Linked DNA regions of Homo sapiens: region 1 is linked to region 2. Evidence: fine-mapped expression QTL. A gene starts in region 2. The other region holds a variant in brackets. All regions are shown on one strand. Distances are from middle to middle. Region 1 overlaps PRODH2 (proline dehydrogenase 2). Region 2 holds the start of ARHGAP33 (Rho GTPase activating protein 33).

Region 1 (11,421 bases), 26 kb after region 2:
AGTGAAACTCTGTCTCAAAACAAAAAAACAATTAAAACTAGTAAGCAAGTTCAGAAAGTGGCCTGAAACACAACCAACTTTACAAAAATCAAAACAGAAATTGTACATTGTTAATTTAATGGGTTATTGTTTTGAGACAGGGTCTCACTCTGTTGCCCAGGCTGGAGTGCAGTGGCCTGATCAAGGCTCAGTGCAGCCTTGACCTTTTGGGCTCAAGCAATCCTCCCTGCTCAGCCTCCCAAGTAGCTGGGACTACAGGCATATGATGCCACCACTCCCTGGTAATTTTTTTAAAATAGAGATAGGGTCTTGCTATGTTGCCCAGGCTGGTCTCAAACTCCTGGACTCAAGCAATCCTCCTGTCTCGGCTTCCCAAAGTGCTGGGATTATAGGTGTGAGCCATGTGGAACAGGTTGCCCAGCCTAATTTAATGTTAATTATGTTAATTTCCTGCTTACAATGCCAACAGTTTCCTATCACACACACAAAATCCAACAAAACTCACACTCCTTTAGAGGCCCTTAACTGTGTGGACTTGTGGCCACTTCAGCCTCACGTCTCTCCAAGTCCTGCTGCTACTCATACATGGGCAGTTCATTTTGACTTCAGAGCGTTTGCACAGCCTCTTCCATCACTCCCCACTTCTTTTTTTTTTTCTTTTGAGACGGGGTCTCGCTCTGTTGCCCAGGCTGGAGTGCAATGGCACAATCTCAGCTCACTGCAACCTCTGTCTTCCGGGTTCAAATGATTCTCCTGCCTCAGCCTCCCAAGTAGTTGGGATTACAGGCACATGCCACCATGCCTGGCTGATTTTTGTAGTTTTAGTAGAGACGAGGTTTCACCATGATGGCTAGGCTGGTCTCAAACTCCTGACCTCAAGTGATCCGCCTGCCTCGGCCTCCCAAACTGCTGGGATTACAGGCATGAGCCATTGCACCCCACCATCTCTCCCCACTTCATTTCACCTTTTTTGCGTGGCTGACTCTTATACTGTAAGACTCAAGCATCCTCCACCTGAAAGGCCATACTGTCTAGGGTCTCATCCTCATCCCACTGCATTTCATTCCCAATGGTCCAAGGGTCATGTTCACCCTTAAAGCCCCATCAGGGACCACAGAGCTCGGGACACAGTCGGTGTTCGGTACCACTGCTGACTGGCCAACTGAAGCCACACCCTCCATACAGCTCCTTGATCCTGCCGCCACAGATGTACCTGCAGCCAGGCCCTCACCTCTCCGCAGGAGCCTGGCCGGGCCCCATCCTGGGCCCCCAGCCACAGCCAGGTGGTGCAGACGGCCCACCTGGGTGTCTAGATCCCTCTTGGAGCCCAGCTCCACTGGGAAGCGCGAAAGGGCTGCGAGGGCATCTGTGGGCTGCGGCTCAGTCGGCTCCTGGGCAGGGATCCGCTAGGGGGGTCTCATCAGGGAAGGGGGATGTGAAGGACTGGAACTTTGGGCACAACAAAACAATGAAGACAGAGCTGGCTGGGGGTCCTGGGGGCGCAGTCTAGACGGGAACGGGATTTAGGAGGGGTCTGATGGGAAGGGAGGTGGCTGAATGAGAAAAGGGGGTGGCTCTGGGAGGGCGACACACCAGAAGGTCTGGGGTCGCAGGGAGGCTGAGAGCTGAGGGGGATCTAAGGCAATCGGGAGTCTGGGAGGGGGCTTAGGGCTGGGGTCGGGCGTGCCAGGGTGGCAGAAGGGCTGCGAGGATAGGATCCGAGCTTGGGAAAGGAGTCGGAGGGCTCAGGAGGAGGCTCTGAAGGCTGCGGTGGGAGGATGAGGCGCCTGTGGTTTAGGATCTGAGAGGCGGTGAGAGGGGTCATGGGGAGGCTCTAGGGACAGCGTCTGTGGGGTCCGTGGGGTGGATGGGGTCTGAGGGCAGCGGGCGCGCTCTGAAGGAGGAGAGGGCGCTGATGGCAGGATCTGCCGACTGTGCGGGGGTCCGCGGGTGGGACGCGTGGACTAAGGACTAGGGAAGTGTCTGTGTGTTGGGGGTGGGGGCTACAGGCTGGGGAAGGGGGCTCTGAGGACAGTGTCTGGGGCTGGGGAAGGGGTCAGTGGAATGGGGAAAGGGTTCGCTAAAGGGGCGGGCAGGGGTGTGGTCTGAGGGCCGCGGAAGAGAAGGACAGGGTGGGAGGGGCCTGAGGGCTGGGGGAAGGGTCTGAGGGTGATCTGAGGGCCCAGAAAGCTCTGGGAAAGTTCTGGGCCCACACCCCAGTCCTGGTGGCTTTGCACTCACCGTTGGGCTAGATAGTGGTCGCCACCTGACTGCCACATGATCCGGCCGGCTGTATGAGCGGGAATCCGAGGTGCTTGAGCACCAGTGGCCTCCCGCAGCGCCTGCGCAGTAGCATCCCCTTCCCCAACACAGCCCCAGCCACTCAGCCTGGGCCCCACAGCCCTGACCAGTCGGGGCTGTCACTGTCTGAGGACGGGGCTGTCTACCCACACCGGACTAAGCCCTGTAAGGCAGGGCCTTGGGTCGTTCTTGTCACTGTTGTGTTCACAGCGTTGTTCACCCCAGAACCTAGCTCAAAAGAGGCCTCATTCAGTGCTTTTATTCTCACTCTGTCGCCCAGGCTGGCGTGCAGTGGCGCGATCTCGGCTCACTGCAACCTGCATCTCCCAGGTTCAAGCAATTCTCCTTCTTCAGCCTTCCGAGTAGCTGGGATTACAGGCGCACGCCACCATGCCCGGCTCATTTTTGTATTTTTAGTAGACACGGGGTTTCACCATGTTGGCCAGGCTGGTCTCAATCTCCTGACTTCTGCCCGCCTCGGCCTCCCAAAGTGCTGGGATTACAGGCATGAGCCACTGCACCTGGCGTTTTTCTCAGACAGGATCTCACTCTGTTGCCCGGGCTGGTGTGCAGTGGCAAGATCATAGCTCACTCCAGCCTCCACCTCCAGGGCTCAAGCCAACCTCCTGCCTCAGCCTCCCAAGTAGCTGGGACTACAAGCACAGGCCACCCACCACACCTAGCTAATTTTTTTTTTTTTTTTTAAGATGGAGTCCTGCTCTGTCGCCAGGCTGGAGTGCAGTGGCACGATCTTGGCTCACTGCAACCTCCATCTCCCAGGTTCAAGTGATTCTCCTGCCTCAGCCTCCCAAGTAGCTGGGATTACAGGCGAGTGCCACCACGCCTGGCTAATTTTTGTATTTTTAGTAAAGACAGGGTTTCACCATGTTGGGCAGGATGGTTTCGATCTCTTGACCTCGTGATCCGCCGGCCTCAGCCTCCCAAAGTGCTGGGATTACAGGTGTGAGCCACAGCACCTGGCTAGCTAATTTCTTTCTTTCTTTTTTTTTTTTTTTTTTTTTTGAGAGATAATGGGGTTTCACTATGTTGCCCAGGCTGGTCTCAAACTCCTGACCTCAAGCAATCCACCTGCCTTGGTCTCCCAAAGTGCTGGGATTACAGGCATGAGTCACTGCACCTAGTTTCATTCAATGCTTATTAACTGAGAGAATGGCTTGGCTCTTTCTTCTGTCCCTCCCTCGCCAAGTGGCCTGGGCCGAGCCCCTTGACTTCAGTGCCTTGGTGTCTGCTCCCCATGTGTGCCCTTCCTTTAGGCATCCCCTGGGATGAAGAAAGTTCTGCATCAGTCACTGGCCAGACCCAACCCAGGATGGTCTGCCTCAGAGGTGAGGGAGGCTTCCTTAGTCCTCCGTCAATGCCCTGGCTATGCTCAATGGGTGTCTAACGATCTTTTTTTTTTTTTTCTTTTCTTTTTTTTTTTTTTTGAGACTGAGTCTCACTCTGTTGCCCAGGCTGGAGTGCAGTGGCGTGATCTCAGCTCACTGCAAGCTCTGCCTCCTGGATTCATGCCATTCTCTTGCCTCAGCCTCCCGAGTAGCTGGGACTACAGGCGCCTGCCACCACGCCCGGCTATTTTTTGTATTTTTAGCAGAGACGGGGTTTCACCATGTTAGCTAGGATGGTCTCGATCTCCTGACCTCGTTATCCACACGCCTCGGCCTCCCAAACTGCTGGGATTACAGGCGTGAGCCACCGTGCCCGGCCTCTTTTTCTTTTCTTTTCTTTTTTTTTTTTTAAACACAGTCTCTTGCTGTCACCCAGACTGGAGAGCAGTGGTGCAGTCATAGGTCACTGCAGCCTCAAACCCCTGGGCTCAAGTGATCCTCCTGCCTCAGCCTCCCGAGCTGGGACCACAGGCACGCACCACCATGCCCTACTGATTTAATTTTTTGTAGAGAAAGAATATTGCTATGTTGCCCAGGCTGGTCTTGAACTCCTAGACTGAAGCACGCCTCCCACCTCGGCCTCCCAAAGCGCTGGGAGTATAGGCGAGAGCTACCACTCCCAGCCTAACGATCTCTCTTGAACTGCAAAACCCCTAGCTTGGGCTGGCTGAGGTCAAGATGAGCCCTTCCCCAAGGAGGCGGCGTCAGTGCAGGACAGCAGCTTAGGCAGCACCTAAGGACTTTTATTGACCACATGACCCCCTCAGGGGTGCTAGTGGGGTATCCTTCGGCATCCTGGCAGCAGCCGCCGCCACAGTTCTTGGCTGAGCAGCTCCTGTTCCCTGCGGGCACCCTGAAGCACGCTCCGGTTCTCCTGGGCCCTCCGGATCAGGTAGGGGATTACCTCCTCCAAGGAGCCATAGGGAATGGACTTATACACTACATAGCCGGCCTGCCCTGCAGGGAGAGTGGGTTTTGTTTTTTCGTTTTTGGTGTTTTTCTGAGACAGAGTCTCGCTCTGTTGCCCAGGCTGGAGTGCAGTGGTGCAATCTCAGCTCACTGCAAGCTCTGCCTCCAGGTTCAAGCGATTCTCATGCCTCAGCCTCCAGAATGGCTGGGATTATAGGCGCTTGCCACGACGCCCGGCTCATTTTTGTATTTTTAGTAGAGATGGGGTTTCACCATGTTGGCCAGGCTGGTCTCGAACTCCTGACCTCAAGTTATCCTCCTGCTTTGGCCTCCCAAAGTGCTGGGATTACAGGCGTGAGCCACCATGCCCAGCCTGGAGTGTTGACAGGGTATGGGCTTGGGCTGGGGGGACACTCCCCAGTCCCCACCTGGAACAGAGACTTCTGTTTCTGAGAACATGGCAGATTAAGTGAGTTGGATAAAATTTCTAACTGAAAAAGCTAAAAGTCCTGGAGCAAACTTTTTTTTTTCTCTCTTAGACAGGGTCTAGCCCTGTGGCCCAGGCTGGAGTGCAGTGGTGTGATCACGACTCACTGCTGCTTTGACCTCCCAGGCTCAAACAATCCTCCCACCTCAGCCTCCTGAATAGCTGGGACCACAGGCATGCACCTCCACGCCCAGCTAACTGTTTTTATTTTATCTCAATTGATTAATTAATTAATTAATTAATTTTGAGACAGAGTCTTGGTCTGTCGCCCTGGCTGGAGGGCAGTGGCACAATCTCAGCACACTGACCAACCTGGCCAACATGGTGAAACCCCGTCTCTACTAAAAATACAAAAATTGGCTGGGCATGGTGGTGCGTGCCTATAATCCCGGCTACTGGGGAGGCGGAGGCAGGAGAATCACTTGAACCCAGGAGGCGGAGGTTGAAGTGAGCTGAGATCGTGCCACTGCACTCAAGTCTGGGCGACAGAGCCAGACTCTGTCTCAAAAACAAAATAAATAAGCTGGGCGTGGTGGCTCACGCCTGTAATCCCAGCAACTCTGGGAGGCCAAGGCAGGCAGATCACCTGAGGTCAGGAGTTTGAGACCAGCCTGGCAAACATGGTAAGACCCCATCTCTACTAAAAATACAAAAATTAGCTGGGCGTGGTGGCAGCCGTCTGTAATCCCAGCTACTTGGGAGGCTGAGGCAGGAGAATCGCTTGAACCTGGGAGGCAAAGGTTGCAGTGAGCCAAGATGGCACCACTGGACTCCTGCCTGGGTAACAGAGCAAGACTCTGTCTCAAAATAAATAAATAAATAAAATAAAATAAAAGAGAAAATGAGAACCCAGAGAGAGAAGAGACACACAGCAAGCCACTTCTGCCCCAAAAGCAAAACCGAGGTGCTATCTGATGAATTCACAGAGTTGCGGGGGGACATTGAGTCAGTCTTCAAGCCTGAGGTGAGAGTTATAAGGGAGAACTTCCCCAAGTTAAGCTGGAACCCAAAAATCTACACCCTTAGAGTAAGAGTTAATAAAAAGTCAACCCTGCAACCTTCCCCCAGTCCCAGGAAATGGTCTTGGCCATAAACAGATCAAGGAAGAAAACAGAAAAATCCACCTCTGCGAAGTTGGGGCTATGGGTTAACCCCCTTATGTATTTGCAGCTCAAATTTGTGCCAGTGGGGTGTTTCAAGAAACCTCAAGCTATGAATTTAGGATAAAGTGATTTCGTTCTGCTTAGCACCTGGCAGAAGGAAACATTAATTACCTGGTGTCAGGCCCTGAGGAGCAGCACAGTAAAGATAACAAAACACACAAGAAATAATACACCATGATCAAGAACCAGCAGAAATGACAGACGGCAGACACAGAGACACAGCCTTGGAAGGCCCACAGACACTGGAATGACAGATCTCTCTGGAAGGATCTGGAGGCTGGGCCTTGGTTGGGAATAGGAGAAGGGCTCTGGCTGGGAGGGAGTAAGGCCTGGGGCTTGATGGGGGTGGGGGAGCCATTCACATACCCAGTGCTAGAGAGACGTGGTCACACATGCCCAGAAGTTGTCCGAAACAGACAGTCCCATCCAGAGGAATGCCCAGCTCCCACATGCTACAGAAAAGGCCACATCATCAGTCCAGACTGTGGCTGCATCTACAGCTTAAAGTCAGCCACTATGCACCCATATGGCGGCTCCAGTAATTCAAACATTGAAGTATTTCCAAACTCAATGATACATAATAACCAGTCCTTTGCATTCCTTGAAGGTCCCCCAGTGACTCCCAGCCAGTTCCCTGGAGCCCTCAGACCTCCTCATGCCCCAGCAAATAAGGGGCAACGTCTTGTCCATCTGGGACCTATAAGGACTTACAGGTATAGCAGGGGTTAATGTGTTTGTTTGTTTGTTTGTTTTAAGAGGTAGGGACTTGCTTTGTTACCCAGGCTGGAGTGCAGTGGCTCAAGCACTGCTCACTGCAGTCTCAACCTCTTGGGCTCAAGTGATCCTTCCACCTCCGGAATAGCTGGGACTACAGGTGTGCGCCACCACACCCAGCTGTTTTTTTTTTTTTAATTTGTTGTAGAAATGGGGTCTTGCTGTGTTGCCCAGGCTGGTCTCAAACAATCCTCCACCTTCGCCTCCCAAAGTGTTGGGATTATAGGCATGTGCCAACCATGCCTGGCTATAAATATTTTTAAAATTCTCCCCAGAACACCTCTGTCCATCTCTGGCATTTGAGCAAAGGAGAGGAAGGGAGGGCCCTTTTGTGGGCACCTATTTCCCGCCCATCCCTCCACCTCATACCGCTTGGTTGCCTGGCGAACAGATTCCTCATTGTGGGAAGCCACCATGAGGTGGCACATGGGGCCATGGCGGGCCACGTGCGTCAGCATCAGTTCCAGGCAGCGGCTGTAACTGAAGGGAGATGCTCTGTTCAGCTCACCTGGTGAGCGAGGGTCAGGCCCCAGCGACTGGGGTGGGTGGGGTGCTCCTAAGCAAGGGGTCTCTGGAACCAGTACTCTGTTCCATCTGCACCAGTTGTAAGGGACATCACTTCTCTGAGCCACTTTCATCTTCTGGGGTTTTTTGGGGGTTTTGTTTGTTTGTTTTTGAGATGGAGTCACTCTGTTGCCCAGGCTGGAATGCAGTGGCATGATCTCAGCTCACTGCAACCTCCACCTCCCAGGTTCAAGGGATTCTCCTGCCTCAGCCTCCCGAGCAGCTGGGATTACAGGCGTGCACCATCACACCCGGCTAATTTTTGTATTTTTAGTAGAGACGGAGTTTCGCCATGTTGCCCAGGCTGGACTCGAACTCCTGACCTCAGGTGATCTGCCCGCCTCAGCCTCCCAGAGTGCTGGGATTACAGGCGTGAGCCACCGCACCCGGCCCCATGTTAATCTCTTGTCACTGTGAGTTTCCGAGCAACACTGTTGTGAGGATGGAGTGAGATAAGGGGGATATGAAGTCTTTGGGACAGTGGCGGCGGTCTCACAGGAGAGGGTCGCATCACATGCACAAGATGACATTTCCCCAAGGTTATCACTGCTGCATTGTCAACAGAACATCACTAGCAACAGCCCAAATGTCCATAAATGGGGAACTGGCTAAGGAAATTGTGGTACAGAGAAGATAGTGCTCTATCGCGCAACTGTGAAAAGGAAGGAAGACACTGTCTGGGTACTGATATGGAAGAGGAAATAGATTGGCAAACACCTTGCAAGCATGCTGCAGGCCACGGGCCACGCTATGTATTTCACATCCTCTGTGGGTCTTCCCTATC[GC/G]CCCCCAGACCTGTTTTCTACCCTTCTCTGCCCCTCAGGAAGCTGACACTTTTGCCCCACATCCCCCATGGAGTCATGTGCAGGAAGGAGTGTGGGTGTCTCACCTCGGCCCCTCCCTGCTCACCCTGACTGTGTTCTGTGTGTGGCCACAGCTCCCTAAGGTGGCCCCTCTCCTTCAACTACAGCATAGGGGTCAAAATAGCTTCCTAATAGCTTCCCTGACTTTGCCCACACTTCCTTTTCGTTTTGTGTTTTTTAGAGACTGGGTCTCACTCTGTTGCCCAGGTTGGAGTGCAGTGGCGTGATCTCGGCTCACGGAATCCTCCAACTCCTGGGCTCAAGCGATCCTCCCACCTTGGGCTCCCAAAGTGCTGGGATTACAGGTGTGAGGCCCTGCACCTGGCCCCTGACACTTCTATAAACAGCCTCTTCACCACATTTCCTTTAGTTAAAACCCTTTGTGCAGAATTCTGTTTGCTTTGGAGAAAGCTAATCACTCATCTAATTCCCACATCAACTCTGGGAGGCAGATGTTCTTATTCCATTTTAACAGAGTGGGGAGACTGAAGCTGAGAGGGGTTCTATCTCTTGTCCCCAGGTCACACAGCTAGAGGTGGCCAGGCTGGGATTTGAACTCAGGCTGTCTGATGCTCCAGAGCCCAGGCTCCTTATCGGTAGGCTAGTCTGCCTTTAAAATGCACAGTTGTGGCTGGACATGCTGGCTTACGCCTATAATCCCAGCACTTGGGGAGGCCAAGGCAGGAGGGCTGCTTCAGCCTAGGAGTTCAAGACTAGCCTGGGCAACATAGGGAGACCCCGTGTCTACAAAAATAAAAAAATGTGTTGGGTATGGTGGTGTGCGCTGGTGGTCTTAGCTACTGGGGAGACTGAGGTGGGAGGATGGCTTGGGCCTGGGGAGTCAAGGCTGCAGTGAGCCAAGATCGCACCACTGCACTCCAGCCTGGGCGACAGAGTGAGACCCTGTCTCAAAAATAACTTAAAAAACAAATGAAAAAAGCCAAATATACAAGGGCACATATTGTATGATTCCATTTATAAGATTGTCTAGAATAGGCAAATCCACAGAGACAAAAAGTAGGTTAGTGGTTTCCAGGGGCTGAGGGGAGGAGGGAACAGAAGGCAGCTGACTGCTCATTGGTATGAGGTTACTTTTTGGGGTGATGAAAATATTGTGGAATCAAAGAGTGGTGATGGTTGCACAATTTTGGGAATATACTAAACTCCACTGAATTGTACATGTTAAAATTGTGAATTCTATGATACGTGAATTATATTTCAATATTTAAAATAATAGTGCAAATTATTATTATTATTTTGAGATGGAGTCTCACTCTGTCGCCCAGGCTGGAGTGTAGTGGCTCAATCTTGGCTCACTACAACCTTTGCCTCCTGGGTTCAAGTGATTCTCCTTCCTCAGCCTCCCAAGTAGCTGGGATTACCAGTGCAAGCCACCACACCCGGCTAATTTTTGTATTTTTAGTAGAGACAGGGTTTCACCATGTTTGTCAGGCTGGTCTCAAACTCCTGACCTCAGGTGATCTGCCTGCCTCAGCCTCCCAAAGTGCCGGGATTACAAGCGTGAGCCACCATGCCCGGCCATAATTTTTTGTGTTTAATGTTTTTTACAGATGGGGTCTTGCTATGTTGTGCAGATTGGGCTCAAACCCCTGGGCTCAAGCAATCTTCCTGCCTCAGCCTCCCAAGTAGTTGGGATGACAGGTGCACACCACTGTGCCTGGCTTGGTGCCAGTTAAGCTGATGGTACACAAACGTGCCCTGGAGCCCCTGCAGATCTTGGACATGAGCCTGGATTCCAAGCGTGGCTAGGCCACCTGCTCTGTAGCCTGGCTGAGTCCCTGTGGCCCCCAGAGAAGGTACCAAGAAGTAAAGATCTAAGGAGGTGAGGGATGGGGCCATGCCACTGTCTGCAGTGGGAATGTCCCAGGCAGTGGAAACAGGATGTGCCAAGCCCCTGGGTAACATGGAGGAGGCCAGTGTGGCTGTAGTGGAGTGAGGGAGAGGAAGAGAGGGAGGGAAAGTTAGGGAAGTGACAGGGAGCATGTGGGGCTTAGAGGCCACTGTAAGGATTTCTTTTTGTTTTGTTTTGTTTGTTTGTTTGTTTGTTTGTTTGTTTTGAGACAGATTCTCGCTCTGCTGCCCAGGCTGAAGTGCAGTGGTGCAGTCATGGCTCACTGCAGCCTTGAACTCCTGGCCTCAAGTGATCCTCCCACCTCAGCCTCCTAAGTGGCTGGAACCACAGGCATGTGCTACCACACCTGACTATTTTTAAAATTTTTTAGAGATGGGGTCTCCCTGTGTTGCCCAGGCTGGTCTCCAACTCCTGCTCTCAAGTGAATCTCTAGCCTCAGCCTCCCAAAGCACTGGGATTACAGGTATGAGCCACTGCACCCAACCACTAGGTGTTATTATTTCCTGCAGAGGCCAGCTGGCCCGGGCCTACCTCTGACTGGTGGCCTCATAGTCAGGCTGAGTGGGGTCTTCCATCCCATGGAGCTGGGCCACCGCTCTCTCCTTGTCCAGATATGCACCTCGTACCAGCTTCACTCCGAAGGCCAGGCCGGCCCTGTGCGCAGCCTCTGCATCCCTCCCCAGCCGCTCGAATGTGTCCTATAGGGCACGCAGGCAGGTTCTGGTAGGTCAGGGTGTGGGGACCCCAGCCTGTACCTCCTGGAACACACTGCACACCTTTAGACAGGCCTGGTAGGTGTTCCACACCCAGGGCCCGCCTTCACCCGGGCTGTTCCAGCGCACAGCCAGGGCAGCCACCAGCAGCGAGAGCGCAGGGTTCAGTGAGGTGTACTCCGCATCCACCAGGAGCCGCACGTGCTGGGCCCGGGCATACTGATGGCGACAGAGACGACGGTCAGGGCCCCGGGTGTCCAGCAGGGGCAGTGGAGCCAGATCCCAGCAGGAGGGGTTACCTGTGCCACCCGATGCAGGCGGCTGAGGGAGGCCCGGAGGTGCTGGTTCCAGCAGGAGGGGTTACCTGT
Region 2 (9,372 bases):
TGGTGGCTCACGCCTGTAATCCCAGCACTTTGGGAGGCTCAGGTGGGCAGATTACTTGAGGTCAGGGGTTCAAGACCAGCCTGGCCAACATGGTGAAATGTCTCTACTAAAAATACAAAAATTGGCCAGGCATTGGTGGTGGGTGCCTGTAATCCCAGCTACTCAGGAGGCTGAGGCAAGAGAATTGCTTGAACTCAGAAGGCAGAGGTTGCAGTGGAAAAAAAAAAAAAGATAATTTCTCTCTCTTTCTCTCTCTCTCTGACACTTGCTTTAGAGGCTACATTAAAAAAAAAAACTAGTTGCCATGCTGGGGAGGGGTTTGGGTTACACAGGTGTATGCACTTATGAAACTTAGTGAAGTGTGTGAATTTCATTGTATGTAAAGTTTACCTCAAAAGAAAATATTGAACGCCAGTTAAAGATACGCCTGTAATCTGACTTCTTTGGGAGGCCAAGGCGGGAGGATCACTTGAGGCCAGGAGTTTGAGACTACCCTGGGCAACACAGCAAGACCTGTCTCTACAAAAATAAATAAGTAAATAAATAGCCAGATGTGGTGGCACACGATTTGCAGTCCCATTACTAGGGGCGGGGAGGGGCGCTGAGGCAGGAGGTTTACTTGAGCCCAGGAGTTCAAGGCTGTATTGTAGTGAACTAAGATCATGCCACTGCACTCCAGCCTGGGCTACAGAGCTAGACCCTGTCTTTAAAAAAAAGAAAAGAAAAAAAAAAGTATGTACACTGAAATATTTAGGGAACAATAAACCAATGTCGACAATTTATTTTGAAATGCATCCAGAGATGAGTTGGATTGATGGATAAATAGTGTAATAGGTAGATGTGAGATAAAGCAAATACAGCAAAGTGTTCATGGTAGGATCTAAGTGGCGGATATGCGGGTGTCCACTGTAAAATTTTTCAACTTTGCTGTAATTTAGAAACTTTTCATGGCCGGGCGCGGTGACTCATGCCTGTAATCCCAGCACTTTGGGAGGCCAAGGCGGGCGGATCACGAGGTCAGGAGATCGAGACCATCCTGGCTAACACGGTGAAACCCCGTCTCTACTAAAAATACAAAAAATTAGCCGGGCGTGGTGGCGGGCGCCTGTAGCCCCAGCTACTCGGAAGGCTGAGGCAGGAGAATCACTTGAACCTGGGAGGCAGAGCTTGCAGTGAGCCGAGATTGCGCCACTGCACTCCAGCCTGGGTGACAGAGCGAGACTCCGTCTCAGAAAAGAAACTTTTCATAATAAAATGATGGAGAATATATGATTGGGGTTGTTTTGATATCTGCATTTACAAAATGGAGGGATAAGATGGATTTCTAGTAACTTCTGTATGTCACATGGTAAATATAATATTTGTTTTCAACCTTTCTTTCTTTCTTTTTTTTTTTTTTTTTTTTTGAGATGGAGTCTTGCTCTGTCACCCAGGCTGGAGTGTAGTGGTGCAACCTCGGCTCACTGTAACCTCTGCCTTCCAGGTTCAAGTGATTCTCCTTCCTCAGCTTTCCGAGTAGTTGAGATTATAGGTGCATGCCACCTCACCTGGCTAATTTGTGTGTGTGTGTGTGTTTTTAGTAGAGACAGGGTTTCACCATGTTGGTCTGGCTGGTCTCGAACTCCTGACCTCATGATCCACCTGCCCCGGCCTCCCAAAGTGCTGGGATTACAGGTGTGAGGCACCGCACCCGGCCTGTTTCTAACCTTTCTAAGCAAACCATACATTTAAATGAAATCAGAGTGGGCACAGTGGCACAGGCCTGTAATCTCAGCACTTTGGGAGGCCAAGGCGAGCAGATCACTTGAGGTCACGAGTTAGAGACCAGCCTGGGCAATATAGTGAAACTCTGTCTCCACTAAAAATTAGCTGGGCCTGGTGGCGGGTGCCTGTAGTCCCAGGTGCTCAGGAGGCTGAGGCAGGAGAATTGCTTGAACATGGGAGGCGGAGGCTGCAGTGAGTTGAGATGGTGCCACTGCACTTCAGCCTGGGCAACAGAGTGAGACTCCATCTCAAAAACAAACAAACTAACAAAAAAATGTAATTGACAAGAAAAATAGCTGTTTAGATATAAGGAGAAATAAAAGATACTATAGTAGCAGAACCTGATCTAGCTGGGTCACGGGTGGGGTCTAGAAGCATTCCTGAGGAAGTTACACTTAAGCTGAGACAGGTAGAAATTATCTAGTTAACAAAGGGCTGTCCTAATTACTCTAGTTGGATAACCGCTCCCAAAACTTAGTGGCATAAAACAATTATTTTATTATGCTCATGGATTCTGAGAGTCAGAGGTTTGGACAGGGCTCATATGGGGACAATTTTTGTCTCCTCCATGATGTCTGGGGATTCACCTGGAAAGACTCAAAGGTGACTTGATAGACTTGATGGCTGTGGAGTAGAATCCTCCAGAACTTCTTCCGTGGTCTTCTCCCAGTCTGACTGGGACTATTGACTAATGCCTATACATAGCTCCATTGGCCTGGGCTTCCTCAAAGCATGTCTGCTTCAGCATAGTCACACTTCGCATATGATGCACCATGGTTCTACAGCTCATTCCAGTGGACGAGAACATTGGTCAAGAAGCTGCATTGCCTTTCATCACATAGCCTTAGAAATCACCGTGTCACTTCCACTGTTTTCTATTGGTTGAAGCTATCCTAGTCCCACCCAGATTCATAGAAAGCAATCATAGAGTCCGCGTCTTGATAAGAAGAGTGTCAGAGAATTTGCAGCTGTTTTAAAATCACTGCAGGACCCCATTCTCCATGATGTGATTATTACACATTGCATGCCTGTATCAAAACATCTCATGTGCCCCCTCAATATATATACCTAAATATACCTGTTATGTACCCAGAAAAATTAAAAAATAAAAAAAAAAATCACTGCAGGGGTTGATGGGGAAACACTAGACAGAAGGAATATCGTGTGGGAAATCCCTGTGATGAGAGTGAGGTCAGCAAATTTAGTACATAAGTAACTGCACATTCACCTCTCCCTCAGCACTCCCTTTCACCAGCCCTTGCTTAATTATTCTCCATAGAATGAATCACCTTCTAATATTTTTTTTTTTTTTCAGACAGAGTCTTGCTCTGTCTCCCAGGCTGGAGTGCAGTGGCAAAATCTCGGCTGACTGCAACCTCCGCCTCCTGGGTTCAAGCAATTCTCCTGTCTCAGGCTCCTGAGTAGCTGGGATTACAGGCACACGCCACCACACCTGGCTAATTTTAATATTTGTATTTTTAGTAGAGACGGGGTTTCAGCATATTGGCCAGGCTGGTCTCGAACTCCTGACCTTGTGATCCTCCCGCCTCGGCCTCCCAAAGTGCTGGGGTTACAGGCGTGAGCCACTGTCCCCAGCTTTTTTTTTTTTTTTTTTTTTTTTTTTTTGAGACAGAGTCTCACTTCAACACCTAAGCTGGAGTGCAGTGGCGCGATCTCGGCTCACAGCAAACTCTGCCACCTGGGTTCAACCCATTGTCTTGCCTCAGCCTCCCAGGTAGCTGGGATTACAGGCACGCCCGCCGCCACACCTGGCTAATTTTTGTATTTTTAGTAGAGACGGGGTTTCTCCATGCTGGCCATGCTGGTGTCGAACTCCTGACCTCAAGTGATCTGCCCGCCTCGGCCTCCCAAAGTGTTGGGATTACAGGCGTGAGCCACCACGCCTGGCCTAATATTCTATATTTTGTTTAATGTTAATTTTGTTCATTGTCTTCTCCCAGTAGCTTTTGAGCTCCAATGTGGGCAGGGTATATTTTCTCCTGGTTTGGTTGTTGATGTATGTACAAATTGATTAGAGTTTGAGTGAATGAATGAATGAATGAATGAATGAACAGACCAAGACCCTCTGAGATGAGAATTTGTTGAGGGCATGACTAAGGAGAGACCCTCCTGTGAAGGGCGTTATTACAGTGTTATCTGGGCATGCTCAGTATTAGCAGGCTCCATTGGGAATGGCTTTATGGGGGGCATAAGCATGATCTGGCATTTCCCCCTAAGCATTTTCCTAGAAAAAAAAAATCAAGGCTGGAGATTGGCCCGTAATAAGCAGTAGAAGGGGAAACAAGAAAATGTCCAGTGGGCAGGGGAGGCCAAATCGCAGAAAGCCTCGGGTTACGTCCTAGGCAAGGTATATGAGGCAACGAGAAACGTCCATGGGCGGAGCGTCCTCGGCATTATGTGAGCGGGGTCGGGATCAGGACTGAAAAGGTGAGACTTGGGACTGGGACTTTGAAAAGCTGCTTAAGGAACTGGGCACTGCTCTGAGGCCGTGGGAGAATCCAATTAAGACTATCAGGGGCTGGCTGGCGTGGTGGCTCACGCCTGTCATCCCAGCGCTTTGAAAGGAGGCTGAGGAGGGAGTATCTCTTGAGCCCCAGAGATCAAGACCATCCTGGGTAACATAGTGAGACCCCCATGTCTAAAAAAAATTAGCCAGGCGTGGTAGCGCACGCCTGTAGTCCCAGCTACATGGGAGGTATCGCTTGAGCCCAGGAGGTTGAGGCTGCAGTAAGCCACGATTGCAGGACTGCGCTCCAGCCTGGGCGACAGAGTGAGACCCTGTCTCTTAAAGAAATAAAAATAAAAAAGTCAGAAGAATGGACACTGGGAGTGGACGAAAGGTAGGGTCCATTGCTTGGTGTTGGAAGTGTCGGAAGCAAAGCATAAAGAACCTGGGGGCTTGTCTCAGGAGGGCGATGACAGCCAATGAAAAGCAGTCATGGGCGTGGCGCTGTCAAACTTCGAGGGGCGGGACCGAGGACACAGAGCCGGGGCGGAGCCCAAGGTGAAACCAATGAGAAGCCTCCGGGTGGGCGGGGCATCGGCCTAAGGCCAAGGGCGGAGCCAATGAGAAGCAGCGCCGCGTTCCCGCTGCCCCCCGCCCCCGTGGGGCGCGCGCCGGAGCCACGGGCAGCCGTTAGGGGCGGGGTCTGCAGCCGCCCGCGCGCGGCTCGCGCCCTCCCCTTTGTGTCGCCATGGCGGCGGCAGCGGCGACGAGAACGGCGAGCGAGGGGTCGAGCGCGGCCGGGGCCTGAGGAGGCTACGCGACCATGGTGGTAAGGGTCCCACGCGGCCGTCAGCCTGTCCGTCCGGATGTCAGTCTGTCCGTGCGCAGCCCCGCCCCGCGCGCCCCGCCCCCGGCCCCGCCCGATCCCGCGGCCTGTGCTTCAGCCGTGGTCCCTCCCGTCCTGCGGCCCCATCCCGGGTCCCAGCCCGTACCTCGACCCCGCCCCCTAAGCGCGCATCCCCGTCTTCCACGCCCTGGATGGGGTGACAGGGACCTAGGGCCTGGGCTGGGAGGAGGCGGGGCTAGTCCAGGAAGGGACCCGCGCCACCCAAGTGGCCCCTGCAGGGGCCTCCTGAGGCTCCTGGGTCCTTCCCCAGCTCCCATCCCAGCACCTTCCTCGGCATCCTTCTGCCAGCCCTCAGCCCTCCCCGGCGGAGCCCCCTCCTCCTCCCCACAGCCCCTTTCTCATTCCCGAGCCCCACCCCCCACCCGCTCCATCCCCAGCCTGACCCTTTTCTTCTCCTTCTCCCTCATTTTCACCCTATCCCAGTTCCTCTCAATCCCCCCCGCCCCGCATCAGTCTGAGCCTTTGCCTCGTCTCTCCAGCCACTCCTTCCTTACTCCACCCCAACAGGCCAGCACTGTACCTCCCTTGATCCTCGGGTCTGCTCCATCTCCTTGTCCTCATCCCCCTCCCCCACCATTTCCCTCTCCCACCATGCTGCTCCCGCTCATTCATCCATTCATTCCCTCACTTAGCAGACATTCACTGAGACCGCCTCTGTGCAGGCCCCACGCTCCAGGCACAGAGAGAGTCAGCTCCCATCCTGCCTTGGGGAACCTTATGGGCTGGAGGGGGACAGACCCTGAGGGTGAGACCCTGAGGGTGACTGGGGGTTGCAGGGACATGGAGCAGGGAGACGCTACAGCCCAGTGAATCTGTCTGGCAGCTGGTTAATTTATTCATCAGATTTTACCCAGTCCCTGCTGCGCGCGACTGGGCTGGCACTGGGGACCCAGAAAAGAATCAGGAACAATCATGTCTGAACACCAACTCAATGCCCAGCTCTATGCTGGGGAGCTCAGTCTGGGGCCCTCCTTCTGGGAGGCCGGTCATAGTCCAATGAGAGAGATGAACTTGTCACCACCAGTGCCATCTCAGAGTGATCAGAGCTGTGAAGGGAGAAGCTCTGGTCAAGGCATGGAACCTGGGATGGGGGAACCTCAGGGGATGGAGAGAGTCCAGAGGAGATGCCAGGTGCAGCCTGAAGGGTCAGGGAGAACTTCCTGGAGGAGGGCACATGTGAGTTGGGACCTGAGGGGTGGGAGTGAGGATGAATGTACCCAGGGAAAGGTGGGGCGAGTGTTCCAGGCTGAGGGAACAGCCTTTGCAAAGGCCTAGAAGGAAATGAGAAGAGGGTGCTTTTTTTGGACTCTTAGAAGTTCAAGAGCTCTGAGAGTGGGGGCAATGGGAAGAGATGGGACTGGAGAGGTAAACAGAAATCAGCTCAGGGAAGTCTCGATTATCAGACCAGAGAATTCAGACTTCGTCTTGAAGACAACAGGGAGTCATTGAAGGCCCAGGATCTATGGAGAAATAGAGCCAGATTTGTGTTTTCTGAAAACGATCCAGGCTATTGCGGAAAAGCTGGCAGGAGGGGAGAGGCTGGAAGCAGGAAGGCTGATGAGATGGGAGTTGTGATTGTCTAGACAGTGGTAGGAGATCACTGTACTCTGCAGGGGCTACGGAAGGGTTTTCAGCAGGGAGAGATGGGACCAGCATGCTCTCCATCCTGTTGCCCCGCCTCACGTCTGGCCCCTGCTTCTCCAGTCCCCCACCCCAGACCACACACGAAGAAGCAGTCCTGTCCTCAGCCCAGCCCTCACCTCCCCCGACCTGCCATCCTGCTTCATGCTCAGGGCGGTGTGTGGAGCGCCCGGGGCTCTGGACCCGCGCTGCCAGATAACAATGCTCTCGTTGTCTCTTTGCTCCCATCTCTGGGGGCCTCTGATTCTTTCTGCTCTACAGGCACGCAGCACTGACAGCCTGGATGGCCCAGGGGAGGGCTCGGTGCAGCCTCTACCCACTGCTGGGGGGCCCAGTGTGAAGGGGAAGCCTGGGAAGAGGTGAGGGTGAGGGAGGAAAGGGCTCAGCTAGGAGCTGGGGAGACTCAAGGAGCTGCTGGTGACGCATCCCCTGTCTCCCAGGCTCTCAGCTCCTCGAGGCCCCTTCCCGCGGCTGGCTGACTGCGCCCATTTCCACTACGAGAACGTTGACTTTGGCCACATTCAGGTATGGGGGCTTTGCATTTGCACCCAGGAGGGAAGACAATATCCTACCCAACCTTGCAACGATATCAGGTGCTTTGCTTCTGAAACTTATCCCTGTGACTGGCTGCTGCACGCGTCTGAGCAGTCAGTAGCAAAAGTTGCAGGAGCCACAGCAGATGGGGAGAGCTGCTCATTCATTCATCCATTTGTTCTTTTATTCATTCAACAACAACTTTTGTTAGGTATCTGCTCTATGTCAGGGACCAGGACATCACCAGGCCCTGTCCTCGGGGAGGTCCAGAAGGGAGTCACAAACCCGTCCCTAGATAGTGCCATCCCCAGGAGGTCAGGACTGGGACAAAAGTCCACCTGGGCCTTGCTTTCCCTCTGCAGCTCCTGCTGTCTCCAGACCGTGAAGGGCCCAGCCTCTCTGGAGAGAATGAGCTGGTGTTCGGGGTGCAGGTGACCTGTCAGGTGAGGCCATCCCGCCTCTCATCTAGCCTGAGAGAATGGCCACTGTAGTCCTCAGCTCGGTGTCATGGGGCCCCTGCTCCCTTCTGTCCCTCTGCTCCCACAGGGCCGTTCCTGGCCGGTTCTCCGGAGTTACGATGACTTTCGTTCCCTGGATGCCCACCTCCACCGGTGCATATTTGACCGGAGGTTCTCCTGCCTTCCGGAGCTTCCCCCGCCCCCCGAGGGTGCCAGGGCTGCCCAGGTAACCTGCTTGTTGTCTCAGCCCCTGCCTCATGAGTGTGTCCTCATCCACAGTGTGAAATCATCAAGGCAGCGGGATAGAGAAATATTTAAATACTGGTATGGCCCAAGTCCCAACCAATCTGAATGAATGGAGAAGCCTTAGAAACGTAGTAGGCTTCTGCTACATTTAGCTTTGCTAAGTTTTAGGATCATGGGGAGTTCCAGGGGGTCCCATGGGAGGGTCACCATGGTCATGCCAACCAGGGTACTCAAGAGCTTGGCCCAGCCTGCTTATTCATTCATATGCCCATATCTCAGTACCTAACAGCTGAGCAGCACCCATGTGTTCAGGATGAACTTCAGCCCAGAGACGAGCTAGGGCAGTGTGGGAGGGCAGTGGGCTCTCTCACGTCCACTCACAGAGGCCCACTCTGACAACCTGCCCCCAGATGCTGGTGCCACTGCTGCTGCAGTACCTGGAGACACTGTCAGGACTGGTGGACAGTAACCTCAACTGCGGGCCTGTGCTCACCTGGATGGAGGTGGGCCTGGGCAGGGGGCTTGGAGATTCCGAGTGGGTGAGGGGGTGTCTGAGGGGCGAGAAGCAGCCTCGGTGTGTGTGTGGGCATAGAAAAGAAAGGAGCCAGAGTGGAGGAGGCGTTGATATTTTAGTGTCTGTGTGGGCGCATGCCTGTGAGAGAATGTGTGTGAGCATGTGTGTGTGTGCACGTGTGTGTGTTAGCAGGTGTTCGGCTTTAAGGATACAAGGGTTTAAATGTATATCAGTTAGAAATGGGTTGGGCTGTAACTCACAGAACACCTGGCTATGAGTGGCTTAAACCAGAGGGGTTTTTTTTCTTTTCTTGAGATGGAGTTTTACTCTTGTTGCCCAGGCTGGAGTGCAGTGGCATGATCTCGCCCACCACAACCCCTGCCTCCCAGGTTCAAGTGATTCTTTTGCCTCAGCCTCCTGAGTAGCTGGGATTACAGGCATGTGCCACCACGCCCGGCTAATTTTATATTTTCAGTAGAGACTGGGTTTCTCCATGTTGGTCAGACTGGTCTCAAACTCCTGACCTCAGGTGTTCCGCCCACCTCAGCCTCCTAAAGTGTTGGGATTATAGGCATGAGCCACTGTGCCTGGCCTCTGGCTAATTAAAAAAAAATGTTTTGTAGAGACAGAGTTTTGCTATGTTGACCAGGCTGGTCTTGAACTCCTGGGGTCAAGCAATTCTCCAGGCTCACCCTCCCAAAGTGCTGGGATTACAGGCGTGTGCCACCACGCCCAGCACAGAGAGATTTTAGATGGCAACCGTGTGGCATCTGCTGTGGAGGATGAAGGTGCAGAGGTGGATGGGGAAGCCTTCAGGTGGGGAAGCCTTTGGGTGGGAGAG

Evidence for each region.
Region 1: its variant is fine-mapped to the expression of ARHGAP33 in whole blood (TOPMed, PIP above 0.99).

Annotation. Positions count from the first base shown.
Region 1 is chr19:35,795,559-35,806,979 of GRCh38, forward strand. It overlaps PRODH2 (proline dehydrogenase 2), which reads right to left. Exons shown (of 10, transcript NM_021232.2): 6 at 11,117-11,272; 7 at 10,872-11,038; 8 at 7,410-7,520; 9 at 6,633-6,718; 10 at 4,430-4,664. The coding sequence ends at 4,480. It also overlaps the pseudogene TEX14BP. Among named protein-coding and RNA genes, the nearest start is that of PRODH2, 12 kb to the right of the region's middle. RefSeq lists an enhancer at 11,375-11,421. The variant GC/G (reference allele first, on the strand shown) is at 8,389.
Region 2 is chr19:35,770,605-35,779,976 of GRCh38, forward strand. ARHGAP33 (Rho GTPase activating protein 33) reads left to right here and starts at 4,960. Exons shown (of 21, transcript NM_001366178.1): 1 at 4,960-5,060; 2 at 7,041-7,138; 3 at 7,220-7,304; 4 at 7,676-7,756; 5 at 7,860-7,997; 6 at 8,428-8,520. The coding sequence starts at 5,055. It overlaps PROSER3 (proline and serine rich 3), which reads left to right. Exons shown (of 11, transcript NM_001367856.1): 11 at 1-562. RefSeq lists enhancers at 4,452-4,511, 6,533-7,418, 7,419-8,303 and a silencer at 4,742-5,221.